Linked DNA regions of Homo sapiens: all the other regions are reported to be linked to region 1. Evidence: microRNA targets listed by miRTarBase, many of them from high-throughput screens and not tested one by one. Region 1 holds a microRNA gene; each other region holds the end of a gene's coding sequence.
The links. Region 1 holds the annotated microRNA hsa-miR-6504-3p (CAUUACAGCACAGCCAUUCU, at 2,778-2,797, shown strand). A microRNA usually pairs through its seed, bases 2 to 8, with sites in the 3' UTR of a target mRNA and lowers its output. Matches are read on the target gene's strand: a 7mer-m8 pairs with bases 2 to 8, a 7mer-A1 pairs with bases 2 to 7 and ends in A, and an 8mer does both.

Region 1 (4,131 bases):
AGGCCCAGGTCTCGGATTGGTAGCCCCACCAGGACCACACAGAGGCGGTGAGGTGCGTCCACCAAGAATGGAGAAGTGACTGACAAAAACCACGACCACGGTCACACATACATAAGACATGTTACATCATGTCAGGGGAGCCAGCCAATTTTCAGAAGGAACCCCGAGTCTGAAACCCCTCATCTAGAGAAAATTTACTCTCTTATCAGTGGGAAGAAGACCTGCCTTGCTTTTTCTTTTGGGATCATTTTATTCCTAACTTGTTTTTCCAGGGAAACCTTCTCTTAGCCCAAAGAGATGCTTTCTAAAAACCTATTTTAGATCTAGCAGCCACTGGATTGTGTAACAGCATTGGGCTGAGAGTCACCCAGTCTGGGCTCCAAGGAATGCTGAGCTCAGTAGCGGAGCGTAACAACTTAGCATTGTTAGAAATGTCCTGTTTCTTACTGTCATCTCTCAGAGGACTCTGGAAACCACGCCTGCCCCAGTCTGCTTTCTTCTTAGTGAATCTCTCACACTCTGCCCTCTACGCTTTTCTTTTAACCCTGTCCCCACACCCCCACACTGTCCCTCCCCCCCTCCCCACCACAGCCAGCAAAGCCTTCCTCTTCTTTCTTTCTCTCCTCTCATCTTTATGATAGAGGTCAGTGTCACCCTCCTGCCAGACACTTCTGCCAGCTCCTCTGCCTCTTCACTCGCTCCTTCTTGCCCATCCGATGGCTGCAGCACAGAGTCCATGAAGGGGGTGGTCAGTGCCAGCCCCCCTCGGCGGGGGAGATGGGGCGGGCAATCACAGGGTTCAGTGGCCAACGGAGAGGTAGGGTAGCCAGAGATTGTCCTACCCCAATGACTTTGCTGTAGTCACAGAGCTTTGAGGCAGCCTCTCCCCTGTGCTCGGGGAGGCCCCATGCGTGAAGAGCCCCTCAGCCCCTGGGGAGACAGAGCCATAAACAAATGATTACGGAAATAATGGCTAAATTAGAGGCAACCGTGGAGGACTGGGAGCCCAGAGAAGGAGGAACTTATTTGGCCTGGGGGGCCAAAGCAGGCTCCCCAGACAGGGGGCATTTGAACTGGGTGTAGAGGGATGAGTAGAAGTGTGCCAGAATGGTGGGGTGGGGGCACACTCCCCGGGCAGAGGGGATGTGTGTGCAAAGCCTGAATATGGGGGACCTGGGTACTTGCTGCAGCTGGAGGAGATGGAGAGATGGAGTTTGGGGCTGTGGATATGTCTAGATCTGTTGGGCGATGGCCAGATCACCCAGGCCTTGCCAGCCAAGTGAAGAAGCCTCAGACCCTCTTCCAAAGGCAATAGGCAGCCACTGAAAGCTCTGAAGGGGTAGAGGGACACTAGAGGAATCAGTGTGGTGGCAGGGCAGAGGGGCCTAGATCTGTGCATGACAGAGAGGCAGGAGGGAGCCCCTTGAAACATTCCAGTTGGAGGAGAGGAGGCCCTGAGCCTCCACTTTCCTGCTCCACCAGCAAAGGGGCCTCATTCCTTCTGGGGCTGGAGGGGCAGCCCTGGCCTCCAAAGGAGGCCAGAGCATCACTCGCCACAGGGATGGAGGGGCAGTGAGGCTGAAAAGCAGAGAAGCAGTGCCTGGAATGTCCCTTTAACCCGGCTGTGGCCGCGGGCCCAGCTGTGATGACTCGCCTGGCCGCCGTGTCTGGCAGGGCTTCAGGACAGAGCTGCCGCCGTGGTGCTGAGGAGCCGAGCGGGCGGGGAGCCTCTAGCTGCTCCAGCATCCCACTTGCTCACTGCCCCCTGATCCCGTGGACAGCGCAGTCAGAGGCAGGAGCAGGAGAGGAGGAAGCAGAGGAAAAGGAGGAGGAGGAGGCGGCTTGCAACTCCTCAGATCCAGAGCCGGACTCCGAGCTAATGAGGGAGCAGCAGACACGGCCTCCCAACCCTTCCCCCAAGGGGAACCCAGGTGGGTGCAGCCCCTGCCCCTGGCGGCTGTGGTTCTCTCCCTGGCTGCCATTTCCGTCAGGGGAGGTAGACCTGGATCGGCTTCTCCCTTGCTTCCCTCTCATCCTCACCCCCACACTCTGCCCACCGTGATGCATGGGTGGTATGTAGCTGGCTCATTCTATAAACAGGGCTAGCGAGTCTGTGTGGTTCTAGGGAGGCTGGGGCGGGGTGCACTTGGCCCCTGGTGTGGTACTCAGGGCTTTCTTCAGTCCTGGTTGTATTCACGTGCCTTTTGTGACGGGTGGCAGGACCCTCTGCTTTGAGAGGCTGTACTTTGTCTTGATTCACATACAACATACTGTATTAGATCCCAGAGCCGTGGTGTCACAGAGAACAACCCCTTTGGCCCTGGGGACAGATCTTCCCTGCTCCAGGGTGGGAGAGGGGACCAAGAAACAGCCAGGTGCCCATCTGAACGGCATTACCTTAGTGCTCCTAGTCAGCAGATGAGTGAAAGTGCCTTAAATGGTGCCGCCCGGCACAGCCACCAGCAGCCACGCATGGCAGCCCACAGATGGATTTAATTTACTCATCAAATTAATAACACAGTTCCTCAGTCCCGTTAGCTACACCTCCAGTGGCCAGGGGCCACACATGGCCAAAGGCTGCTGTGTTGGACAGCGCACATAAAGAACATTTCCATTGACACACGAAGTTCTGTGGAGCAGTGCTGACCTCGAGGCCTTTTCATTTTGACCTCATACTGCAGGCACCTGAGCCCCTCCTGGGGCGAATCACGTCAGATCACAGGGGGCTCTTCGATCTTGCAGTCTGGCTGTGCTGTAATGCAGTCTGCACCCTGCTGCATTACAGCACAGCCATTCTCTCTACAGACAAGGGGAATGGCGGGGCCCAAAGAGGGCTAGTGCCCCTTCCCTACCCCAGCCTGCCTGATCTCTCTCCATCTCTGTCTCTTTCAGGTTCTTTGCATCCATGTGTGTCTGTTTTCCTCTCTCTCATGCCTTTTCTCCATCTCTCTCCCCTCCTTCCCCTTCTGTCCCCTCCTGCCTCTCCTCTTTCTCTCTCTTTAGTCCTTGCTGTGGCTCACTCTGGGCTTCTCTTGCAGGTCCTTCCTCCAGGCCTCTCACCACCTCTGAGCCTGTCCCCCAGTCCTCTCTGTGTGTCTCTCCCCTCTTCTCTTCCTCCTCCTCCGCTCTCTCTGTCTTCTAAGGAGCTCTTTGTAAAACTCTTACTTTGTTAGAATTTGAATCAATGCCTCTTGCAGACCTCGGGGAGCTGACCTGATCCTTCAAGGAAGGCAGAGAGGACATTCAGGCCCATGCCCCTCATCCCCAGCTCAGAGACAGAGCAATCTACCAGCAGGTTGAGTTGGCAGACAGAGGCGCCCAGCCTTCCAGCGTGGGTCCAGTTGGTGTGTTTTGGATGCTTTGTGTTTTCAGCGTGAGCTCCCTCACTGCCATGTTATTAGAATCCCTCGTTGCAGAAAGGGCCTGTTTATCCCATTTCCTCCATTGATGCCCTTTCTGCTAGCATTTCATTGTGGGGAGGCCAAGCATGTAAGTACATAGACAGTGTCATGAAAACGTCCTGAAGGTGCTGTCACTGGCCCCTGGGATGGGGTAGCAGGCATTAAAGAGCAGCGCGGCGCAGATCATCTTCTGGGGGATTCTGCCTAAAAATTGAGTGGCTGCCCATCAGCAAAAATTAGACAGAGCCGCTGCTCCACAAACAAGGCTTCAGGCAAGATAAGAGCAGGGAGACCCTCCTCCCAAGAGTGTCTGCTTCTTTCGGGGATGGGTTCCGGGACTCGGCTCTTCTCACCAATGTTCTGGAAAGTCCTGCAGGAGGCGGGGCAACTGTTTACCCCAAACATTGGCAGCAGGGCAGGGACGGGGTGGGTTCCTTTCTTACTGGAAGGTAGCAAGCAGGACTTTTCCGGTCTGGAAAGCACCAGAAAGGTCTCACTCTCTAGCTTCCAGTAAGAAAGGAAGCTCCTTTTCCCTAAGAAACTGGGCCGGGGAAGGGGAGCTTGGAAAAGGTCGCTCACAGCGCACCCTGGGCTGTTTTTCTCACCTCTCAAGACAATGCAACAATGAGAAAGAACTTGGCAAGTTTGGGAGAGGAAATTGGGCAGCGTTTGCCTGGAACCAGGCCCTTTCAGCATTCCAAAGATTTAACACCAGAAGTCGGAAGCCTGG
Region 2 (4,131 bases), not on the chromosome of region 1:
CACAATCCAGGTTTTCAGCGTCACCAGAGGGATGTCACCTCCAATGGAGTAGTACCTGCCTGCTACCTAGAGGTTTTTGGGGCCCAGTTCAGATCCGACACAGCAGTGTTCCTGTCAGTACTGGTGAAAGATGAAGGATGGAGGCACTGGGGATGTGGAAGCCGTGGATGCCAGCTGTCCTGCTCGACCACTTTCTCTGGAGGCAGGAGCACGCCCTCAATATTCCATGCACACAAGGATCACCACTGGCCACGCCACTGCTCACGTGCAAAGTCTTTGAAGAAATTACATTTTTTAAATTAATTTTTGTTTTTGTTCGTTTGTTTCCCCCACAGGAGGGGAAAGGAGGAGAGGGAAAGAGAAGAGAAACAGAAGTTGAACATTTCTTTCCACTCACTTCCAAGCCCTGAGGAGCTCCACAACCTAGAACCAGGAAGCGCCTACAGAATCCGTGATATTTCTGCTACGAGGTGGAGTGGAACAAGAAAATAAGAAAATTGTGGCCAAAGACAGAAATAGGAATCATGATTTCTCCATAGGGGAAGGATTCCGTTGTAGTTTTTCCTAGGCTGAGTGAAAAGCAGGAGTAGAGAGTTGGTGCTTGGGTCACTACATTTATTCATAGATTTACTCTTTCAGTATTTTATTACGTGCATGCTGGTAAGTATGTTACAAATATGACCTCATACAAAGGTAAAACTTTCATACCAGCCGTATGAAGTAGGGATTATCCACTGCATTTTACGCAGCAGCAAGCCCAGGTTTAGAAAGGTTTCCGAAGTTCTCTGCTGTAGACACTGGGTAATTAACAGTAGATAAGACACAGTCCCTGTTCTCAAGGGAGTCACCATCTGGTAGAGGGAAGACAGATGTATCAACACATTAAATGCTGTAAGTATTGGACAGAGGAAAAAGAGAAAAGTGTTGTGAGGGAAAAGGAAAATGGGCCTAGAGGAGTGCAATTTTTTGTAACAAGCTTTGTGGAACTATTAATTTGATAATTTGATAGGCGCTTCTATTATGCTGCCTCTGAACCTTTGCCTCCTGCTCCTCTAACCACTGGGATTGCCAGCCTATTTCCAATATGCCCTCTTTCTGCCTGGCAAACATCTTGTCTTTTCTAAACTCAGCCCAGGGACATGACATCTGTAATGTGTTTCTGTGTGACTCCCAGGCTTCTGCCTTCTTAACCTCTCACCTTCCAGCTCATTTGAGTGAATCTTTGTCCAAGAATTGAGAGAAACTTTATAGGTAAAGCATGCACATGTTGTCTGATTTAATCTAAAATAGAAATAAGAAAACAAAAAATAATACTGCAACTAGGGACACATTTAGTCACTCCCAGTTCATGAGACAAGGAATAGTAAAGTTCATTCCTACCATAGCAAAAGTCAGGATTTAAATGTAAATTAATTTTTTTAATTAAAAAATTTTAAATTAGGCCAGGCGTGGTGGCTCACACCTGTAATCCCAGCACTTTGGGAGGCTGAAGTGGGCAGATCACGAGGTCAGGAGTTCGAGACCATCCTGGCCAACATGGTGAAACCCCATCTCTACTAAAAATACAAAAATTAGCTGGATGTTGTGGCGGGCACCTGTAATCCCAGCTACTCGGGAGGCTGAGGCAGAAGAATCGTTGGAACCCAGGTGGCGGAGGTTGCAGTGAGCCAAGACCATGCTATTGCACTCCAGCCTGGGCAACAAGAGCGAAACTCTGTCTCAAAAAAAAATTTTTTTTAATTAATTTTAACTAAATTAAATTTTTTAGAGGCAGACTCTCAGTCTGTTGTCCAGGCTGGAATGCAGTGGCGCAGTCATAGCTCACTGCAACCTCAAATTCCTGGGCTGAAGCAATCCTCCCACCTCAGCCTCCCAAGTAGCTAGGACTACAGGTATGCCACCATGTCTGGCTAATTTTTAAAGAAATTTTTTTGTAGAGATGGGATCTCACTGTGTTGCCCAGGCTGGTCTCGAACTCCTGGCTTCAAGTAATCCTCCTGCCTTGTCCTTCCAAAGCACTGGGATTCTAAGTGTGAGCCACCACACCTGGCCTGGAGTATCTAATATTGTATAACATAATAATAGTAATCATAGGTGATGTCATTTATTGAGTACTTAGTATGTGCTGAGTGCTCTGCTAAGTCTGGTTTAGACATTATCTCAGTTAACCTTCCTGGTGTCCCCCAAGATGGATATTGTTACCTCCATTTTCTCCTAGGAAGAAACGGACTTGGGGGGGATGATTAGGTATTTGCTAGATGTCTATTCTGTACCATCCCTGCACTAGGCCCTGTGAATACAGAGATAAATAAAGACACAGTCCCTGACCTTATGGGGCTCACAATCTGGAAAAAAGAGAAGGATGTGTAAACCAATAAATGCATTAATGCTCCGATAGAAAGCTGCGTGGAATCTGAGAAAAACCAAGGCAGATGAAGCCAGTGTGCCAGCAGCCCTTTGGGACAGAAGATATTTCACTGAGGGGCACAGGCACAGGGGTTGGTTTGCCAAAGGACCAGCAGCTGGGCTGAAGGGCATAGGTTTTATCATTTGAGCTTCAAGGCACAAGGCAGTGACCTGGTCTGTGCTAGAACAGTTCACCTGTCACAGCCAAGAGGAAAGAAATGGTGCAGATGGCTGTTTGCCCAAACCAAGCAGCAGATAAGCAGATCTTGGGAAATGTAGCTCATCCCTCAGACACACATCTTTACTTGAATCCTGAGTAGAACTCTAGGTGACCCCCTTGGAGGCTATTACTCATGTAAAAGGGGATGAAGGAAAGGTAAGAGAGAAGGAGCTTAGGCTTTGGCATGAGAAAATTTGGGCCTTTGAATCCCTGCCCTGCTTCACCATATGGATGTGTGACTCAGCATAGTAGCTGTGCATCTTGACCTTTCTGAACGTGCTTTCTTGACTGCAGAAAGGGAATGCCTGCCTAGGAGGGTTGTTGTGAGGATTAGATGAGATAATTTGTGCAAAGTTCTTGGCACAGTACTTTTCACTTTGTAATTGCCACAAGCTGTTATTGTTGTTATTGCTGTTATAAAGTGTACTCTTCTTGGCCGGGTGCAGTGGCTCATGCCTGTAATCCCAGCACTTTGGGAGGCCAAGGCAGGTGGATCGCCTGAGGTCAGGAGTTTGAGACCAGCCTGGCCAACGTGGCGAAACTCCATCTCTACTAAAAATACAAAAAAATTAGCCGGGCACAATGGCAGGTGCCTGTAACCTCAGCTACTCAGGAGGCTGAGGCAGGAGAATCACTTGAACCCGGGAGGTGGAGGATGCAGTGAGCTGAGATTGCACCATTGCACTCCAGCCTGGGTAACAAGAGTGAAACTCCATCTCAAAAAAAAAAAAAAAAAAGTATAGTCTTCTGAAACCAGAACGTGTGAGCACCTGCCGAGTACAAGGCACCATGTGGGGCAGATAAGCAGAACACTCTCTCACCTTCCCTTTACTACCCCAGCCACTGTCAACTCTTCATTTGCAGTTTCTCTAGGAACCACACTTTCCTATTTCTGGATCTTTTGTCTGTTGCTGCTTCTGGACCTGAAAATGCCTTCTCCTCCCTCCTCTTTGTTAACTGCCAACATCACTAATTCCTGCTCTTCCTCCAGGACCCCGCTTAGACGTCCCTCATCTTGGGAGCCTTCCCTAATATACCAGGAGCAAGGTAGGCACAAGTGCTCCACTGCATTATGCTCCAACAGCATTCTGTGCCATCCCATTATGGCAGCAGTTACCATAGTAGATTGGAATTGCCTGTCTACCTATCCACCGCTACTATTAGCCCCCATACAGCAAGAAGGTCTCCTTATTTTCTAAGCCCAGGACAAACTGCATTTCTGTCTGTCAGGACCATTTGTTGCACAGTCCAAGATCATCCCTGCATGGACCCTTTCCAGAAATGACTGAGGACTCAGAGTTGTAGCCTCTCAGGATGTTAAATATGAAGAAACCTGTCTCTGCCCTTTGTAAACATTAGAAGGGAAAATTATGGGGAAGAATTATTTGCCCTTTATAAGGGAAGCGGGGTAGAGCATCAAAGGGAACTAACATTTAAAAAGCATTTGCTGTAATGTGGGATAAAGCAAATGAGTAATTGTATGATATTCTAATTCTGTCATTCCC
Region 3 (4,000 bases), not on the chromosome of region 1:
GCTGTTCGTGGCATTTTATAGATAAGGTCACCAAGGCTCAGTTAGAGTAGGTGTCAATAAATGTCTGACCCAATTGATGGGTGAATAGAGGAAGCATCTGGCTAGAAGCCCCAGTCATGCTGGGCCAAGCTGCGGCTGGAACTGGGGTCTATCTGACCCCAGCCAGGATGGCTTTCCACCTCCCTGCCCGCTTCTCTGCAGGGCTGGACTTGGGAACTCTGGGGGCTGCCTGGAAGAGGAGGAACCATTGCTATCAGGAGATGCCCAAGTCCTAGCCCCAAGGGATAGTGGAGGAGTTAAGAAGAGGCAGAGATCTCAGGGCTGGTACCATGCACACTGCAGCCATGAAGCACCTTTCCACTTGGCTCAAACCTTCCCTCCCTAGGAGGCCTCTCCTGGCCCCAGGTGGTCCAGAAATGACCCCCTCCGGCCTCCCAGCCTCATGGATATAAACAGTATGGGAATCTACCAAAAGTCTTACTCACGTTCCTTGAGGGCGGGCTCCTTAGTGAGCGCTCAATAACAGCTCTGTAAGGGGAGTCCTGCAGAATTTCACTGCCCTGTGTCCTCACATGGTCTCCATCCTTTCCTCTCCCCTTCCCTCTGGGCCTCCCAGCTGGCCCGATCCAGCCTGGAACCTAGGTCTGCACCTTCCCTGGAGGTATTCCCACAAAATCCTCAGGCAGTCCTTCCCTTTTCCCACTGGGTTCCATACGCCACTCCCCTTCCCACCCACAATTCACAAAACCACACCCTGATGCTTTAAATCCCGTATTTATTGCCCAAAGCTCATTAGTATTACACAAATCACATAGATTGAGAAATTTTCTGAGGTTAAAAAGACGCTGCAAAGGCCCCTGGGAGTGGCTGAGGCTTGCGTGCGGGGGCCTCACTCTCACTGGGCCAGGCTTGAAGACCACCCTGGGTCTGTCCACCAGCCTTTTTCCTCCTCTAGGCTCCTGCCCTTTTCCCAGGCCAGAGGCCAGAACACCAAAGAAGTCGGCTCATAACCAGGTGAAAGGGGTCCGTCGGCCAGCTCGACTCCACGGCCAGCTTGACATCTTGGTCCCTGCACCCTCACACTGCTGTCTGGGAATGGAAGAAGGGCATCCCCAAGCCTGAGGGCATGTTTGAAGTGACCAGAGGAGGGCCAGGCAGGGACACCAGGGGTGCAGCACCATCGCAGGCGTGGCTTGTGTTCTCGCACAGCTGGCCAGCCCCGCCCTGACTGTGTCCAGGCTTAGCCTCCACCCCAGGCATGAACCAATCTGCCCCTCAGGCCTCCCTTCCTCTGGCCTCAGCAGAGTGGGGCATGGGTGCTGGGTGAAGGTTTCCCCTCACAGGTCTTTCCAAAGCCAGACCAGGGCCTAGTGGCATAGCCCACTGTCCCTCTGTCACCCTCACCCTAGGCTATCTGGATCCTTTGCCACTGCACCGCCACAGGAGCAGACCCCTTGGCTCACCTGAAGCTGCATTTGGGAGCATGACGGAAATCATCCGGGAGACAAAGCAAATGAGTTATGAGATGCTGAGGCCACAGGCTGGGCCAGGGCACCAGGCCTCTGGCAGGGGGAGGGCGGGAAGGGGTGGGTAGGCAGTTTTGGTCCCAAGATAAAGTGCACAAGAATAAGACCTTATGATAGGTAGGAGCAGGGTGAGCTTGAAGTGAGCTTTTCAAAAGACGACCCAGACATGCCAGCACCTAGTTCAGGCCTAGAGACCAGCACAGCGCAGCAGTCACTGGCATATTCACATTATGGTGGGATTGGCTCAAAAAGGCCTGCCCCTCCAACACCATGGCACCCCCACACTCCCGCTGTTTTGTCCTCCAGGCTTGTCTAACCCTTCTCCCCCTCCTCACGGGCAGCAGGTGGGCTGCTCCTCAGGAGAGTGGCAGGCCCCTCAGGGCAATGTGCTGCAGAGCCAGCTGGTGGGCACCAGCGGCTGGCAGAGAGGCAACGGCCATGCCCATGGAAGGCCCACCTCAGCACACTTCCCCTACCCTAAGATGCCACCCTGCAGCGGCCTCTTCCTACACATGAATGTTCACCTCTGGCCTAAGTCTCCCCTGAGGTGGAGACCCCGGGGGAGGGAGGCCTGGGGCTGCAGGTGGAGGCTTCCATTCTAGGTGGGGTCAGGAGGGGGCTGCACTGAGGCTGGTGCTTCCCCCTGGTTTGGGCCTTTCAGATGAGGGGTCACCCTGCTCACACCCACCCCAGGCTCTGCTTCCCTTTGTACAGCTTGCTCTTCCTTCCTGGTCTGCAAATGGGAGGGAGATGGGAGCCAGCAGCAAGGGGCCTCTGAGGCTGCCAGAGTGAGAGGCGACACATGGGTATGGCCCCACCATCAGGCCCAGGCATCTATGTTACCTCCTCCTCCAGAACTGTAAAGTGTTTGGCAAAGGTCAACTGCTCCCGGGATATGGAGTCACATACACAAGGCAAGGCCTTCTGCTGAGGCCAACTGCAGGTCCAAAGGGGCCTGCCCCCTTCCCAGTCCAGAGTCCACACTGGGGACATGCCCAGGATGACCAGCATCTGAGCAGGACAAGCAAAGACGAGGTCTTGCTGGAGGAGCCAGTGGGAACCCCTTGATCCAGTCTTCTGGTTTCAGACAGGGAGTGGAGGCTGAGAGAAGGGAATGAATTTGTCTGACATCTCACTGCCATTTAGTGACAGAGCCAGGGCCCACTGCTCCTAGGTTGATGCTGCTTCTCTGATAGGTGTCTAAGGAGCTGGCCTAGGCATTCTCAGGCATGAGACCTTCCTGCTTAGAAAGGGATGGGATGGGGCAGGCAGCCTTGGTGGCTGGAGAAGCTCCGCAGAAGGCAGCCAGCCCAGTCTAGCCCCACTCTCAGCCCCAGAACCCAGCATCCAGCCTGGGGCCTGGAAGGAGGATCTTCCCGAAGAGGCCAAGTGCAGGTCCATGGTTCCTGCCAAGCACCATTCCTTCTCGGGGTTTCCTGCCTGGAGCTGGGGTCACTTCAGGGGCCCTGAATCAGTTAGAGCTCCACGAAGGGGGACCCTAGCTCCAGGGTCACTGGACTTCACTCAGAGGGACTGGTTCTGCAGCTCTGGAATGGATGTGGGCTGGCTACATTCAGAGCCAGCTGCCCACAGAATCTTGCAGAGGCCTCCAGTGCTCCCTGATTCCCTGGGCCACTGCCTGAGGACCCTAGTCATGGCTAGTTCATCCTGTGGGGTGCAGACCACCTTCTCTCCCCTCCCCATGCCAGCCCAGGGAGCCATCTGGGCTGGCCATTGTAATATCCTAAATTTACCAGCCTGGCCACCAAACCAGCCCAACTCCAGGCCTAATCTGGCTCGCCTCCACCTGTCCTCCTGCCACTTCTGGTCAGCTGAAACTAAGGCTCAGATTTGATTCTGATAAAAAATAAAAATAAAAAAGGAACCAAAGTATAAAAGGATTCTACTTCTACCCCATGGGCACTCTACAATTTTTCAGCTTCACACATAATTGTGCTGAGTGGAGTTTTGACAACCCCACATAAGGCCCAGAAATGCACTTGATTATTTTTTTGTACGAAATGTGTTAGAACTCCTCTTGCCTATGTTAAAATGTGAATGGGTCAGTCTCCCTCCACTGTAGGTTGAGCACTCTCCCAGGGGGCCCAGGACTGCTGGGGTTGGCGTGCTGCTCCCTGCAGGTGCAGCCGTGAGTCTACGGCCCTGCCCCTCAGCTCCCCGGCTGCACAGTGCTCCGTCCCCAGGCCGCTGACCACACTCACAACCCCTTGTTGTACACCACTGTCCGGCTGCTCGTGGCCTGGGCTATCTCCGGCTCTAATTGGGATGTTTCAATCTGTGGAGAGAGAACAGAGAGGAAAAGTGGGGGAGTGGGAAGGGGCAAATAGTGGGGCTGGGAGCTGCAGTGAGGACCACCCTGGGCCCCAGAGCTCTGCCCCCTGCACCCCCGTGTCCACCCCAGCCAGGGCTCACATGCCCTACCTAGTGACACATCTTCCTTCTCCACCGCCCTC
Region 4 (4,122 bases), not on the chromosome of region 1:
AGCTTGGGCGATATGGGAAGACTCTGTCTCAAAAAAAAAAAAAAAGGCCAAGCCTTGTCATTTAGTTCCTAGGTCTTGTGGCCTACATTTTATTTTCTTTATTTAGAGATGTGCAGATGGTATAAAATCTACTTTTTTATAATAAATTCACATTTTGTACCTCTGAAATTTTCCATTCGAGGGAATTTTAAAAAATTGAGATCTGATTTATTCACAATTCTGACGGTAAGCAGAACACTTACTTAATTTAGCAAACAGCTTCCTAAGTATCCTCCCCACATAAATAAAACAAAAAACTAGGGTCTTCAAAGAATATTTCAGTAACAAGAATATAAAAATATTGAATACCAACTAAAGAAGAGCAATAGATATAATATCTTAATATCACTTTTATCCAGTGTAAGACAATTTTTAAGCTTTATTTTTATGAAACATTTCAGATTCCCTCATATCACAGCACATCAATAAGCAGTATGTACATAGACTGACTTTTATAGTACATGTCATGTCCCAAATTCCCAATCCTAGGTAAGATATCAAGTTACAAAATACAAGTGCCGATAATTAAACTATAGGTAGTATATTAAACAAAAATGAGTTTTTAGCAATTATGTGAAATAAGGCTTTAACCAAAGCAAGACTTAATGCCACAAGGTGTCTTTTTTCCCCAAGAGTAATTAATTCAATCAAGCCCATGATTCCAAGCTCAAGTAACAAGTTTTATATTCTTGAAGCAAACAAGAAAAGGCAATCAATGCTTAAGTGGTATATTTTAGTATATATTACATTTCTGGACAATCTCTCATTGCATTCAATTTTTAGAACTTGTCTTGGGTCTAATAAAACAGAAGAATTAGAGAAGAAAGCCCATGCCACTTTGAGGAATGTAACATAATTGTTTTGTCTGGGTACAAAGGTACGTTACAACACTGGGGGTCTTTAGTCAAGTTCCCATACTAATTGACTCACCAAAGCATACTTCCTTCAGCTACAACTGTAATTGGAACACACAGATTTTACCTGAAGAAAATCCTGTACTTCCAGTTTTAAAAAGCAGACAATTCTATGAAGAAGCAACCATTTAAATATCTAACTATACACATTCAAGTTTTTACAACTTCATGCCTTATGAGGAATTTTGATTTCAGAAGTATCATTCCACAGACTCAGCATCATATATTTATACATATTTCATACAGTATAGTATTAGAAACTGTAAATGGCACAGAATAATCATAATTATCACAAAATTTTATCAATTTCCAGTGATCTTAAAAAGACAAATTATAACCGCCTTTGCTCAGCTAAGATATCCAGTTATGGTTACAACTTTCGAAAATCCTAAAGTTATGTGAAAAAAATTAGTCAAAGAAAATCTGTAAATCTGATACTTTCCAATATTTTAAATATGCACAGCTAAAGAGAAAATAAAGGGGTTGATCTGGCACATGAATAATTAAGTCAATGAATTTTACAACCCTGAGCCACTTTGGCAACTACTTTAGGTTTCACATAATTTTCACAGTCTTAGTACCACCATTTTCATTCAGATAAAAGAAATGACCTTTTGAAATCATGGGCATCAAATTTGGTGCTTATGGACAAGAATCACAACTAGAAGCTAGAGACAAAATGGATCACAGCAAGCACAGTTTCCCTCAAAGAATAAGGAACGCTATAGAATATACAACAGCGATAGTTTAGAAACCTTGGGAAGCTCACATTTCTTTAGTTATTTTGTTTTACTAAACAATTTGAAGTAAGCATTATATTCATGTTTAAAAACAAAGCAAGGAAAAATAAAAAATGAAACAAAAATGCAGCATGGAACATTTTAGGAGTCACAGAAGGTTCTCTTCTTCCCTTTGTTTTGGGCACATTGTCTCACCTGTTTTCACTTTGTTACAAAAGGAAACAAAACCAAATCTCTGCTCAGAGTGGTCATAGTGAGAACACTGAGATTTGCATATGTTTTTCTACTTTCCCATCCATCTAGACCCTGAAATCTAAATAAATATTTCAGTTAAAACTTTTTTTCCATTTGCATGAAGTCTGGGTCACTATATCTCCTACCCTGAATGGGGGAAGATGGGACAGCTATATCTCATACTGAAGCGGTGGCAGCTAAAACCTGGCAACTGCTGCCAGTGTCCCCAATGTGTCTTGCTTATTATTTTTTAAAATGTGACAAAGACAAAAGCTACAGCTGGAAACTCACACAATTTAGAAATATGTTGAAAACTTTTATTATAGTCCTTAGGATTTCCAAGTAAATGCTCCCAAATCAAGTATTACAAAGCTGCTAATTAATTAGCAACTGAAAATTAGCCATTCAAATTATATTGGAAATATTTGCTGAATTGTTTTTATGAAAGCTTCCTCTTGGATTCTGTAAGGATCAGAGTATCTGAATCCACAAACCAGCTAGTTTCAAGAAAGAATTCTTTTGACTAAAACTTACCTTAAAACCAATTTTCCCAACTCTTTTCCTTTTCCCAAATAGTCCAACGTTTTGAGGAGAAATATATGAGGCAGGTTGTTTTATACGGCACTGTACCCTTTAGGAAACCTAACATTTCAGTGAACTGGGAAACTTCACAACATAAACTCTATGTATTTATAGATATTATGACTGCTGTATAATATATACTGTGGGGAAAAAAAAAAAGAAGAAAGAAAAGACTAGCCTGGGCAACATGGCGAAACCCCATCTCTACAAAAAATACAAAAATTAGCTGGGTATGGTGGTGCCTGCCTGTGGTTCCTGCTACATGGGAGGCTGAGGTGGGAGGACTACCTGGGCCCGGGAGGTCAAGGCTGCAGTGAGTCGAGACTTTGCCACTGCACTCCAGCCTGTGCGACGGGGTGAGACCCTGTCTCAAAAAAAAAAAAGAAAAAAGAAAAGTTTTATCAAAGGATAAAACCGAAATGCTATAGTATATAGTGTGACCATAATTTCAGAAGAAGAGAATTAGCATAATTTAAAAGGATAGCTAGCATACTATACGTTTTAATAATTCCAGTATTTTTGTTACTTGGGCTTAATTTAACTTATTTTCCTCTTTTTGATTTTTGTATTTTTAAGAGGGCACTTTTAATTTTCAAGTTGTGTTTGAAACTATAGAGTATGCTAATACAACTTAATATAAATATAAATAATATATAAGCTCTCTCTCTGCATATATACACATATAAACAGACCCAAGCATTAGACCACTGATGTTGTACTTTCAGGATTCACACGAATAAGTCTAGATGCATTCCTCAGATCTTGGAGTTGCTTGGCAGGTTTCCCCACACCTTCTTCAAACCTTTTCTCCACCACAGGGAGGACTGTTTCATATAAAAAGGATGCATTCTGTCTGATAAAAGCTTTCTTCTCTGGATCCTGCTCACATCGAAGACTATAATCCACATGCTGAACAGCAACCAAAATGATTTCCACCAGGCTCTCCAAAAGTACCATGTGCAGCTCTGGGAAATACAGCTTCAGGGCCTCTTCCAAGAAGCCCATGGTCTGTTTGGTGAAAGCAACCACTGTGTAACTTAGGTTCACCCAGCAGTCATCCCCTGTGTACTGCTCAAAGTTACTTACCCCACAACTTTTCATCTCTTCTTTGAGCTTACCCAGGGCTTCTGGCGTCATCAAGTTCATCCTCCTCCACATCTCTTCAGAGTTGCGATGTTTAGTGGCTTCAATGATGATTTCTTTGTAACTGTGCAAGGCCCCTTGGATGTCTTTCACCAGAAGGGCATGGATGATGAAGGTGAGATCCAGTCCGATATCACCCAGTTGCTGGCAATGCTCCTTAGCCACTTTTACACACTCAGCTGCTGTAGAGAGGCTCTCCTTACTATCAAACACCTGCTTGCTAAAAGCATCCACGAACATGCCCATGGCTGATCTTGCCCAGACCACAAAGGCAGAGTAGCAGCCGCTGTCAGTGCCTGCAAAATCGATCTCAAATTCTCTTGCAGTCTCGAGAAGGCTGGTAAAGAAGACATGGCACAGCTTATGAATATAGAGTAAAGTGGCACCTTCGATGCGAAGCTGACGAATTGCAGTATGAACAGCGGCTGCCCTGTTTCTCAAAAATAGCTCACAGGCCTTCGTGCACTGGC
Region 5 (4,131 bases), not on the chromosome of region 1:
TTGGACAGGATCTTGCTCCATCACCCAGGCTGGAGTGCAGTGGTGCGATCTCGGCTCACCGCAGCCTCAACCTCCTGGGTCCAAGCCATCCTTCCAGATAGCTGGGACCACATGTGCATGCCACCCTGACTGGCTATAATTTTTTATTTTTTTATTCTGTTTCTGAGACCAAGTCTCACTCTGTTGCCCAGGCTGGAATGCAGTGGCACGATCTCATCTCACTGCAACCTCCGCCTCCCAGGTTCAAGTGATTCTCCTGCCTCAGCCTCCCAAGTAGCTGGGATTACAGGCACCCGCCGCCATGCCCAGCTAATTTTTGTACTTTTTAGTACAGATGGGGTCTCACCATCTTGGCCAGGCTGGTCTTGAACTCCTGACCTCAGGTGATCTGCCTGCCTCAGCCTCCCAAAGTGCTGGGATGACAGGCGTGAGCCACTGCACTTGGCCTTATATATATATATTTTTAGAGATAGGGTCTCGCTATGTTGCCCAGGGTGGTCTTGAACTCCTTGGCTCAAGTGATCCTCCTGCCTCGGCCTCCCAAAGCACTAGGTTTAACTGACATGAGCCACTGCGCCCAGGCTGGTGTGTGCTTTTATTTAAATTGTTCCGCAGTCCTATTTGGTTTGTTTCCTTTAATTAAATCTCAAATTTACAAGAGTCCAGACTGTCTGGACAGCCCAACAGGGACACAGAGAGTTTTACACACTGATGTCTCAACAGCACAGGGTTCCATCGGGACTTCGTGAGAAAATCAGGATCCATGTACGTTCTTGAAGAGCTGTCTCTCGGCCTAAGATAAGTGGAGAAGGTTGCCTTGGAAGCGTGGGGTAGAGGTAGGAACAGCTGGCTCTCTGGCCAAGGCCTTTGGCTTTTTCGCGGAAGCAAAAACCGAACCACGGGAAGGCTGCTCCGAGTCTGGGGTCAGAATTTCCTATCAGTGAGTGCAGCAGGCCAGGGAGAGGCGAAAGGGAGTGGAGAGGACTGTGGTGAAAGGGAGAGGGGCGGCCCCTGCACAGCTTCACCAGGCGTCAGTGCAGGCTCAGACGGCCGGACTGGCGAGTTTTCAAGAGAAACTCCAAATCCAGACAGGTGTGTGTGATCTCTTGGTTTTAAATGCAGACAAATTCCAAATGTCTCAAATACTGAATGGAGCCAGCTAGACCTACCTTCTCACCAAGTAAGGCCCACAGGCCCCTGCCGCAACCTCTACCCTCCACAGACAAGGTTCTGCAAAACAGTCATGGGACCTTGTTTCACCTCCCCCACAGGCACCCAAAATAACCTTCCTGACCTGCAGCAGCATTTTGCAATCTTTGAGAACCCCTGCCCCCTGCTGACAAACAAAAATGGCAAATAGACTCCCCCACACCACGCCTCCACGCCCTGAGCTGAGAATCGCCCGCATCTCGTGGGTGGTACCAGAGCCAAGACGACAGCCAAGCTTTGCTTTCTCAGCTCTGTCTTATAAAAGCAACATGGTTGGCTGGTTGGTTGCTGATTCTCCAAATATGAAATCACGATATTACAATGTGCACACTTTGTGAGGCCGAGGTAGGTAGGTCGCTTGAGCCCAGGAGTTCGAGACCATCCTGGGCAACATGGTGAGACCTTCTGTCTACAAAAAATACAAAGATTAGCCGGGTGTGCTCGTGCACACCTGTAGTCCCAGCTACCCGGGGCTGAGGTGGGAGGATCACTTGAGCCTGGAAGGAAGGGGCTGCAATGAGCCGAGATTTCACCACTGCACTCCAGCCTGGGTGACACAGCGAGACTTTGTCTCAAAACAATAAATAAATAAAATGTGCACACATCTCAGGTGGGTCCCCCCTCACCCCTGGGAGGTGGGCACGCTCCGTCCCCTCCCATGTGGCAGTCCCTGGATTGGAGCAGTTTCCCCTCCCGACCCAGGGCAGAGGTCTCCAGCTTCACGGAGGCATCCTGGCTGAACGTGCCAGCATTCACTGGAGCCTTCTTGAGTGGGGGCTTCCAGTACCACATCCTGTGGACTGAGGGGCTTCACGCACATTTATTCTCATTCAGTTCTCTGGGCCGCAAGTCTGAGATGAAGGTGTGGCCAGGGCTAGGTCCCTCCAAGGCTGAAGGGGATCTGCCCTGGGCCTCTCCCAGCTCCTGGTGGTGGCCGGCATCATTGGCCTTCCTTGCATGCATGTCTGTGTCCAAATACTTTTTTTTTTCTTTCTAAGACAGAGTCCCACTCTCACCCAAGCTGGAGTGCAGTGGCATGATCATCGGTCACTGCAGCCTCTTAACTCCTGGGCTCAAGTGATCTTCCCTCGTCATCTCTCAAGTAGCTGGGATTATACGTGTGCACCACCACAGTCACTTTTTTTTTTTTTTTTTTTTTTTTTTTTGAGACGAGTCTCGCTCTGTCACCAGGCTGAAGTGCAGTGGTGCAATCTCGGCTCACTGCAACCTCCGCCTCCCTGCAACCTGCGCCTCCCAGGTTCAAGCGATTCTCCTGCCTCAGCCTCCCAAGTAGCTGGGACTACAGGCACGCAACACCATGCCCGGCTAATTTTTGTATTTTTAGTAGAGACGGGGTTTCACCATGTTGGCCAGGATGGTCTCGATCTCTTGACCTTGTGATCTGCCCGCCTCAGCCTCCCAAAGTGCTGGGATTACAGGTGTGAGCCACCACGCCCGGCCCACCACGATAATTTTTTTTTTGTAGAGACGAGGGTCTCACCATGTTGCCCAGACTGGTCTTGAACTTCTGAGTTCAAGCAATCTTCCTGCCTCGGCCTCCCAAAGTGCTGGAATTAGAGTAGTGAGCCACTGCACGTGGCCTCAATCCCCCACTCCCCCGCTTCTTTTTTTGAGACAGAGTCTTGCTCTGTCACCCAGGCTGGAGTGCAGTGGCACAATCTCGGCTCACTGCAACCTCCTCCTCCTGGTTCAAGTGATTATCCTGCCTCAGCCTCCCGAGTAGCTGGGACTACAGGCATGTGCCACCATGCCCAGCTAATTTTTTGTATTTTCAGTAGAGATGGGGTTTCACCGTGTTAGCCAGGATGGTCTCGATCTCCTGACCTCGTGATCCGCCCGCCTCAGCCTCTCAAAGTGCTGGGATTACAGGCGTGAGCCACCGCGCCCTGCCCCAGGCCCCCTTTTTTTAAGGACCCCAGTCCTTGAATTGGGGCCCACCCTACTCCAAGATGAGATCATCTGAACTAATTCCATCTGTAATGATCCTATTTCCAAATCAGATCATCTTCTGAGGTCCTGGGGGTTAGGACGTGAGTTTATGGAAGGGGGGGTGCCGCGACTTGCCCCCTAACACTTCCCTTCCCCCAGTTCACCGTGTGAACCCGTAGTCCTTGTGCGAGGGATGAAAATCCCAGGCGACATGATCCAAGTGGGAGGCAGCAGCTTTTGGCTTTTACATCAAGCGACCCAGGGGTCGGCGTGGCCCAGAAAGTACAAACGGGTGAAAGGTGGTCCCCAGAGTAGGGCCCCAAATTCCTCTCCCCATTGGGCGGGGGCCAGGAGGAGAGGTGACATTGGTGTTTGAAACAGCTGCTACAGATGCCTCAGCATCCTCTCAAAGGAGACAGGTCACCCATCTGTCTAGGGGAGTTTGGCCGGAGTCCGATTGGGAGAAAAGAGGTGGAAAAAAACCCACAAACCCCACCCGCGCCCAGCAGGAGAGCCCCAAAAGGCGCGAGGGGCGCGGTTGGGCGGCGCCGGGGTTCAGAGGCTGCCCTCGTCCAGCATCCGGCCCAGGCCCTCGCAGATCCTGCGCAGGTGGGAGCGGTAGGGCTCGGCGGGGCCGTAGAGCGCAGCCAGGAAGTCGCAGTCGGCTAGGTGGCCGAACACGTGGTTGATGCGGCCGTGGGACTTGGCGGTCAGGTGGGGACCCACGGCCTGGTGCAGCAGGTCGCGGCACTCGAGCAGCCCGGCGGCCAGCACGCGCCGGTCGAAGGTGAAGTCCACCTGGTGGAAGCTGACGGCCGTCATGGCCAGGCAGCGCGCCCGGTGGCGGAAGCGCCGCAGCAGCGCCAGCTCCTCACCGCCCAGCTGGTCCCCACGCAGCAGCAGTCCCAGCTTCAGGGCCACCTTGACCAGGTTCTTGAGCATCTTCTGGGCCTCCTTGCGGCTGCGCGTGAA
Region 6 (4,131 bases), not on the chromosome of region 1:
GGGGCATTCTGGGTCAGTCTGGATATAGTCCTGTCATTTCTGTTTACTTGCCATTGGTTAAAGCAATCCGATGGCTACATCTGGTTGCAAGGAAGAATAAGAAACATAGTCCAGCTGTGTGCCCAGGAGGAGAAGAGTGAGTTTTAATGGGTAGCTCCAGTCTCTGCCACAATTGTCGAAAGGAAGCAGTTGATGGATTGGTTCTTGGTGCTACCAAGGGAAGTGATCAGGTTTTTTAATCCAATTTTTTTGTGTCATGATGAATCCATTTTTTAACATTTCTGTCACAAACAATAAGCAGTAATACACAGTTGTACAAATATGTTCTGTTTTTTTTTCTCTTCTAGTCAACGAAACGGAATATTCCAATGCTCTTTGTCCGGGGAGATGGCGTTGTCCTGGTTGCCCCTCCACTGAGAGTTGGCTGAAACAAAGAATTTGTCCTGTATGGAAAACGGGAGACTTTGTACAGTGGCCTCTCTAAAAGTACAAAACATTCATAAGAGAAACCTGCATACATTTTGATATTAAGAAATAATTCCGGGGATTCTTCCACTCCTGAAATGAGTTGATTTGCAGATAACTCACAACTTCTTAAGCTAAATGGTATTTTCATTTTTCTCAAGCTCTCCAATAAATATGACCACCAAGATGCAGAACTCTTTCAGGACTTCTTTTGCTCCATTATTCTCACAGATACTTACTGATTTTTCTTTTCTTTAAATTGGTGTTTCCTTGTAGATTTTTTTAAGTGCGGTCTTCTGTCTTGTGAATTATTTAAAGTAAGCATGTCTTACCTTCACTTAGCACACATTTGCAGTGCACCTACTGTGTTTGAGGCACCAGGTTTGAGTGCTGGGAACCAGAGTTTTATCAAAATGCTTTCTGGGCCAGACATGGTGGCTCATGCCTGTAATCCCAGCACTTTGGGAGGCCAAGGTGGGTGGATCACCTGAGGTCAGGCGTTTGAGACCAGCCTGGCCAACATGGTGAAACCCTTTCTCTACTGAAAATATAAAAATTAGCCAGGCGTGGTGGCGCATACTTGTAATCCCAGCTACTCAGGAGGCTGAGGCAGTAGACGCTTGAACCCAGGAGGCAGAGGTTGCAGTGAGCCAAGATCACACCATTGCACTTCAACCTGGTCAACAGAGCGAGACTCCGTGTCAAAAAAAAAAAAAAAAAAGTTTTCTGCCCTCAAGTCTTCTGGGGAGGCAGATGTTTAAACCAACAATTGCAGGCAGTAAGATTAGTGCTGATAGAATCATGCACATGCAGGATGCCATAGGAGCATGGGGAAGAGCACCCAAATATGGGAGAAAGGGGCAGAGGGACATTGTAAACATCAACCCTGCAGTAGAAGACAGAGCAAAGCATGATTTCTCTTTTCTCTGGCCTGATTTAATTCTAAGGTCAGACGTTCAGCTTGATCATAACCTGTTTATAATTATGACTCAGACCATTTTTCCACTCTTGGATCATTGGCCATTAATGATGAGGGGTCTCAAACAACATGTCTCAGTGACACAGTAAAGCAGAAATTGGCTGAAAGCAAAGCTGTTTTTATTTCTAGCTTCAGTCAGCACATAATGCTTAAAACCTAAAGAGGAAAGTAAAAGCGTGTTACAATCTCTCAAACTTTATCAAGACAGGGCTTAGAACCTGACATCCTCCGCTATGGTCATTCCATTTTGAAATGTAGAAAATCCAACTTGTGGATGGTTTGTCTGTAAATGAGCTGAATGTGTGTGCGTGTTCATTATCAAGCACGATATGCTCACAAATGCACAGTACTTTAAGCCTTGTGCAAGAAAGATGCTTTCAGTAAACATATTTAAAAGGTTTTATTTTCCTTACTAATGGTACATGCCCCTGCAAGTTCATGGAGAAGAGAAAAACAAGTGTGGGTGAGCTGATGGAGGCTTCATCTTAGGTGAGGAGGCAGGAGAGACACCCTCCCTTCACTTGTGCCATCCCCACGCTTTGTCCTTAAGCTGTAGTGGTCCCAGGAGATAACCTGTTTACAGCAGCCCATTCAGTATTGAAAAATGAACTCCCTCCTGCAGAATGTTAGAAGAAACAACCTCAAAGACCTCAGGCCGCCTGTGGTCATTAGTATGTGGCAGCAAGATTGAACCTGCCTGCCTCCTACCTGTGTGAGCCTGTGGTGTGGGTGTGGTACCAAGGCCCTGGCTCTGGGCAGTCTGTTGGCTCCTGGTGTTCACTAAGGCGTGGGGTGACAGGCCATCTGGCCTCGCTCTGCCAGTCTGCAGTTCTCCCCAGCACTGCATTCATTTTTAGTGGTTTCTGATAGTCACACTGAATTCCTGGACACTTTCTTCTCTTCATTCTTAGTTATCTTTCTCCTTTTTCTCCTGGAACTGATAGTTTACACTAAAACTTTTGGCTGTGAGGACTTGATTATACACATTTCTAAAACCCATGAACCTTAATATCTGACACTGTTACTCTCATATGCACACACAACTAAAACATACCAACCTACTTCATTTCCTAGCTGCTAAGATACAAGGGGAGGGACAATAAAAGGTTAACTGCAGAATAGCCACCTATGTGTCAGGAAATGGAGGGAGGGGAGGCAATGTGTGAGTCCTTTTGGAGCTGGGACTCAATCCACAACAGAGACAGCTCAAGCAGGGCCCTGCCATGGTCCACACTGAGGTTTCCTCTGCAGTGGTGCTGTCCACTGAGGGGTTATGGTGTGAGGGCCCCTGGGAGCCACGCCTTGGACTTCTGAGTCTGCAGAGCACTCGGCTCCAGCCAGCTGGATGGCAGGTGGTCAGTGGAGCTGGTGACTGGTGGTTTCTGCAATGAGGTGTCAGATTAGCCTAAGGGAAGCCTCTTCAGCAAGTATCATGCCTGGATCCCGGTCTTGGTTGTTTTATGAGAGGCCGATATGAATTGCCATTGCCTCCCACAAAGAAAAATGGACAAAATATGGGACCACATCTTTGAGATGAAATGTGCCCAAAATGAAAAGTAACTTGAGTATCCCAAGTTAAACTTAATCATTAGCTGCAAATGGACGATTTTCAAATTTCAAATAGTGATTTTTGAAGATTTGCCCAAACTAGAGTACTATCCCTCTTCACACTAAGAGGCAGAAAGTGGTTTCACACACCCTTTTATTTAATCAGCTAAAGTGGGTGCGGTGACACACACCTGTAAACTCAACCACTAAGGAGACTGAGGCGGGAGGATTACTTGAGCCCAGGAGTTCGAGATCAGCCTGAGCAACATAACAAGACCCTGTCTCAAATAATACTTAGCTATTACCCATATTGCTTTTAGCCTGCTGCCAGGAGGGGAGAAATGTTATTGTTTGAACAGATGTCAGATGTGAGTAATGCTCAGCTGTGTTCAATGTAGAAAATTAATAAAAGTTCCAGGAGTCATCCTGGCTAGATCAAGAAGCACAGTTGATGTTTCTCTGTCACTCAGCTCTGCTGAACTACATGGATTTCATTCGTGGGCAAGCTCTTCCCTGTAGCAGATGCAGACTTCCAGCCTACCTGCCCTCCAGCTAAAGTGGTCTCATCCTCCTTGCTTGGTCCCTGTGCCCATCTGTGGGCTGGTTTTTACGGCCATGAGAATGTGGGGCTCTGATTGGCCAGGCCTCAGTCACACGCCCATTTCTGGAACTAAGAGCAAGGTTATCCCCACCTGAGCTGTATGGTCTAAGTGCAGAAGGAGGGGTCGTTCTCTGAAGGAAACCAGAGGAAAGGGGAAATGGAGCTGGACACAATGCCTATTACACAGGAAAACTTTTAGTCTGCCCCAACTTATAGAAAAATCCCTTTGGTACTTTCCTATTAGTAACAAATTTCTTGGAACACACCTCAGACTGACACTATGACTTTAAGCTATTGCTCTGGAATCCAGGAGGTTCTGGAGCAACCTGTGTGGGGATCAGTATGGGTGGAGCTCAGATTTGTTGGCTGACTGGGCCTGATGGTAGCCCGAGTCCTCTTGAGGGGTCTAGGTAGGAGATCTGCAACACAAGAGGGCTGTTAAGCTGGGGGTAGGTATCAGGGGGTCCTCAGAGCTTCTGGGGAGGGCAGGGTAGTTGAACAGAGTGGACTGAAGAACACTAAGCCCCATGAGACAAAT
Region 7 (4,131 bases), not on the chromosome of region 1:
TGCCATTGTTAGGCAAAAAACACAGCAGACCCTCTGCTGGTTTAACTGTTCCCTAAAGTTTTCCTCCATTGAGAGTCTAATTTCTTGATTATAACTTTTGGGGATACAGAGATAGCTTTGATTCTATGTGGGAGATTTCTGTACTAGCAGATGCTGGTATGAAGAATAGATAAAAGAAAATCTCTTTATATGCTACATGCCTTCCTTTCTCCCAACCTAGACTTCGATAGCTTGAGTGGAAAAATATTTTCAGCTGCTCTTCATAACAGCCTCTGTGAAAGCAAAAAGATTATCTACAAAAAATTATACAAATACAAGATTAATTTCCTAAATTTTATGCCCTAAGTCACATGTTTATGGTGCCTAAAAAACAATTAACTTGATAACTAAACATTTATGTATTATCTCTTGAAAAGGTCTATTTTCACACTATTTCAAAAATTATTTATTTTATATGCAATACCTAAGACATAATACTTGAGAAGGAAAATATATCCTGTCATGAAGATTAAAAAGTTATAATATTTAGGTAATTTATCACAAAGGAATTTACTAAATTTTGCTATATCAGTTGTGGAATTTTCATAGTGTATACATGATCACTTAATAACAAAATTTTACTTGCTGTAACCTTTTAACATGAATTTATTTTAGTGCCCTTTTAATCTTCATGCAATAACTTTTAGGCAGTTTGAAGAGAACACATGAAGAAGAGGATGATTTTGGAACCATGCAAGTGGCGACTGCACAGAATGGCTGACTTGAAGAGCAACATCATAGAGTGTGAATTTCTATTTGGGAAGGAGAAAATACAAGAGAAAATTATAATGTAAAATGGTAAAAACATAAGTAGTTTTTTTTTCAATTACATGTTGCTTCCAGACATACTTCTCTGCAACTTGTTGAGCAACATTTTAAGATGTTGGACTTCTGCAATAGATGACACTGATGGTTTTACTCCTTTTTTTAAAAACACATGCGCGCGCACACACACATGCTTTACAAGTTTTATTATAAACCAAGAATTTTGGACTTGCAAAGAGGTATTATTGCAATAATGCACTTTTCATACTTGAAATTTATTTGTATGATATAAAGTTATTACTTTAAACAAAATGCAAGTATGGGGGGATTGTTTATAAAGTTTGGGTAATTTATAACAAAATTTGCTAAGGTTTGCTAAAAATTCATTTTTCTGTTCTATATATTACATTTTTAACATAATTTTACAGTTCAATTTTATGATGGAGCCTCTTACAGAAACATTAACAAAATGCAGGAATCTGCCACATTTCTTTTTTAGTATAACTTAATAGCTTAATTACCATTTTATTTTTTATACTTCTTCCATTATTAATCTTTAAATCATGATCCTAATTAGCTGTCCTTACTTTAACTTGATCTAATTATTGCTTCCTTTCTTATTACTTTCCTAATTTTTCTATATTTTAAAAACTACAGTTTCCATGATAAAAGGAAAACGTTTTGATTTATAGTACCAAGTGCTTAAACACAAGGATAGTGTTAGATTTTCGAGTGACTTTCCTTTTTGCATTTTTTGGCAGTAAAAGCCAAACGTTGTATTTGTTCTTTTCAGAGTTGTCCAGCCCTTTTTTCCTTTGTCCAAAATGATTCTAAATAGAATCTAATAAACCAATGTAGCATTATTTTTTTCTAAATGAAGCCCCAAAAAAGAAAAGTGCCTTGCATCATTTAAAAAAAATAATTAAATCCTCATGGCCTCTAAATTAGTATGTAGAACACTGAAAAGTTCTTAACATTTTTGTGTAATTTCCTTTCTTTTTAAACCATAAATTAGTTTAAACTGAAAGTACGAGGCTGGAAGAAATATTAGTAAATTATTTGGAATATAGAATGTTTACTCTTTCTTTTTATGTTGTCTTAATGATTCTGTGAGATTGTTCCGGCTCAAACAGAAGCTTTTCTTTGGGGAAGGTGATTTGTGGGAGACTAGTGTATTTTAAATTAGCATTTTAATCCATTCTTGACATTCAGTTAGTCCAGATCTGCCCCATAATTTGCTTTAGTAAAGTCACTTTATGGATTTTTGGCTATGTTTTAGTTTGTGTGTATAAAAGTTCTAAGAAAACATTTTTGCTATTTTAAGTATGTAAGGGAAGAGAGGAGTGTTTTTAACTTTTTATAGTTGATGACTTTAGGGTAGCACAAACAAAACTCCTTTGTATCTAACTTTTCTCAATCCTCTCTTGAGGTGCTTTACTAATGGGAATGATTTCTGTATGTTCCCTTGGTACCAAGAGGTACTATGCAAAGTAACCTATTACACCAAGTTACTTGCTTTGCTTTCCTCTCTATGATGTGATAATACAGTAAAAGCTTTCTTACCCAGCATAGTGGGAGAGTGGAGATTAATTAAAATTGTTAATTAAGAGTTAATTCCTATTGACCCAGGTGATATTTCTCTTCTGATTTCCCTCCCCTTCCCTTCTCTTATCTTACCACTGTGAAAACAGCATATTGTTAATCTCGTTGTCGTCCAGTATTCTGCTTTGTGATTAGGTCTTTTGATGTACAGTGGTCTAGTGGAGTCAAGATTCGCATTGGGTTTTCTAAAATTCCAGTTGATAAAAGTTCCAGATAACACAGCTTTCCTGTATATAGATCACTATTGGGCAGGTCAGCAAAGATCTCTTACAGTGTAATAATAATCTATGATGCTTCATTTAGCAGAAACTCTGCTTAAAAGAATCTTCATAATAGTAAGTTTAGGTTTTAAAAACTTGTTTCATAAATATACATATATCCTCTCTAGTAGTCTGGCCAAAAGAACAGATTTTGTTATTGATAATTTGTAGCTGGTAATTTTCCACATTTTCTATCCACTGTAATTTTTATGTTGTCACTGAAGTGCCTGCCCAGTACTGTATATTACAGTCTCTCACAAACACTGGGAAAAGGGACTGTCATCATCTTGAGTACTCTGTGTGTATATATATATATATAGATAGATAGATTTTTTTTTTTTTTTGAGACAGAGTCTCTAATGTCACCCAGGCTGGAGTACAGTGGCACAATCTTGGCTCACTGCAACCTCCACCTCCTGGGTTCAAGTGATTTTCCTGCCTCAGCCTCCCAAGTAGCTGGGGTTAGAGGCACATGCCACCATGCCTGGCTAATTTTTGTAGTTTTAGTAGAGATGGGGTTTCACCATGTTGGCCAGGCTGGTCTCAAACTCCTGACCTCAAGTGATCCACCCACCTCGGCCTCCCAAAGTGCTGGGATTACAGGCGTGAGCCACTGCGCCTGGCTGAGTACAATATTAATGTAGACAAACCATGAAGTTTATTATTTCATATAAGAACATTACAGGTTTGTTTTTTCTTGCATGTCTGTCCACCTAATGTTTAAGTAGTTCTGGTAGCTCTTCCTATTCTTTATTCTATTTGATTCCATTTCTGTGATTCTTTTATTACCACTGATGTTTTGTGATAGTTAACTATGATAAATTTAACTGATCATGATTTATCTTCTAGAGTATTTAAATAATGTATGAGTGACCACCCAATTCCAACATTAAAAGTGTAATCTGGGCCCATAATTTATAGTGAAATTGTATCAAAACATAGGGAAACTGTATTACTGTCCATTTTGAAAATATGAAACTTGAGTATTGAAAATATTCAAACATGGAATGGCAGTATTCTAATTTCAGTTAGTTGGTTCATGTTAATTTCTTACCTGTTAGATGTTTAAACTGCAGTGACCTTTACTTGTATCTACTCTGTGGTGGAAATGTTAAACCATGATAGCTTTTGCTACCAACTCAACCACTTAACTTTTAGAGCAGTTTTGGGGAGAGTTTATGCTTCATCTGAGTTTAGAAGTAATGTCAGAAAATGTTAAGCATGTCTGTATTAAGAAAATATAAGGTTTCTAATTGTCTTATTAATATGGTAATTCAAGTGAATTAGAAATATTTAACTGCAATCTTGAATTATAAAGTTGAGATATATATATATATGTATCAAGATCTCAACTTGATGTAAAGTAAATGAGCAGTTACCTGGCGGATTTTTTTTTTTTTAAATAACTGATTTAATCCATAATCCCATAACAAACATAGCTTCACCTCAGTATTTTCTTTCTTTC

Region 2: the mRNA of FAM227A is a reported target of hsa-miR-6504-3p. Seed matches in the 3' UTR shown: 7mer-m8 at 1,147-1,153, 7mer-m8 at 1,463-1,469, 7mer-m8 at 1,596-1,602, 7mer-m8 at 3,083-3,089 and 7mer-m8 at 4,074-4,080.
Region 3: the mRNA of SFXN5 is a reported target of hsa-miR-6504-3p. Seed matches in the 3' UTR shown: 7mer-A1 at 797-803.
Region 4: the mRNA of EXOC8 is a reported target of hsa-miR-6504-3p. Seed matches in the 3' UTR shown: 7mer-A1 at 2,290-2,296 and 7mer-A1 at 781-787.
Region 5: the mRNA of TNFAIP8L1 is a reported target of hsa-miR-6504-3p. Seed matches in the 3' UTR shown: 7mer-m8 at 3,093-3,099, 7mer-m8 at 2,642-2,648 and 7mer-A1 at 1,524-1,530.
Region 6: the mRNA of LSM3 is a reported target of hsa-miR-6504-3p. Seed matches in the 3' UTR shown: 7mer-m8 at 911-917.
Region 7: the mRNA of STYX is a reported target of hsa-miR-6504-3p. Seed matches in the 3' UTR shown: 7mer-A1 at 2,680-2,686 and 7mer-m8 at 2,865-2,871.

What each region holds. Positions count from the first base shown.
Region 1 is chr16:81,608,610-81,612,740 of GRCh38, forward strand. It overlaps MIR6504 (microRNA 6504), which reads left to right and starts at 2,739; the gene lies at 2,739-2,799. All of the region lies in intron 2 of CMIP (c-Maf inducing protein), which reads left to right. RefSeq lists an enhancer at 1-182.
Region 2 is chr22:38,582,404-38,586,534 of GRCh38, reverse strand. FAM227A (family with sequence similarity 227 member A) reads left to right here. Exons shown (of 17, transcript NM_001013647.2): 17 at 336-4,131. The coding sequence ends at 410. Among named protein-coding and RNA genes, the nearest start is that of DMC1, 14 kb to the right of the region's middle. RefSeq lists a silencer at 724-924 and an enhancer at 3,469-3,518.
Region 3 is chr2:72,941,278-72,945,277 of GRCh38, forward strand. SFXN5 (sideroflexin 5) reads right to left here. Exons shown (of 14, transcript NM_144579.3): 14 at 759-3,822. The coding sequence ends at 3,745. Among named protein-coding and RNA genes, the nearest start is that of EMX1, 26 kb to the left of the region's middle. RefSeq lists an enhancer at 592-1,580.
Region 4 is chr1:231,332,360-231,336,481 of GRCh38, forward strand. It overlaps EXOC8 (exocyst complex component 8), which reads right to left. Exons shown (of 1, transcript NM_175876.5): 1 at 394-4,122. The coding sequence ends at 3,209. Among named protein-coding and RNA genes, the nearest start is that of EXOC8, 3.4 kb to the right of the region's middle.
Region 5 is chr19:4,652,014-4,656,144 of GRCh38, reverse strand. It overlaps TNFAIP8L1 (TNF alpha induced protein 8 like 1), which reads right to left. Exons shown (of 2, transcript NM_152362.3): 2 at 577-4,131. The coding sequence ends at 3,715. Among named protein-coding and RNA genes, the nearest start is that of TNFAIP8L1, 15 kb to the right of the region's middle. RefSeq lists a silencer at 1,364-1,413.
Region 6 is chr3:14,197,689-14,201,819 of GRCh38, forward strand. It overlaps LSM3 (LSM3 homolog, U6 small nuclear RNA and mRNA degradation associated), which reads left to right. Exons shown (of 4, transcript NM_014463.3): 4 at 348-3,434. The coding sequence ends at 428. Among named protein-coding and RNA genes, the nearest start is that of LSM3, 21 kb to the left of the region's middle.
Region 7 is chr14:52,770,347-52,774,477 of GRCh38, forward strand. STYX (serine/threonine/tyrosine interacting protein) reads left to right here. Exons shown (of 11, transcript NM_145251.4): 11 at 687-4,131. The coding sequence ends at 760. Among named protein-coding and RNA genes, the nearest start is that of GNPNAT1, 19 kb to the right of the region's middle.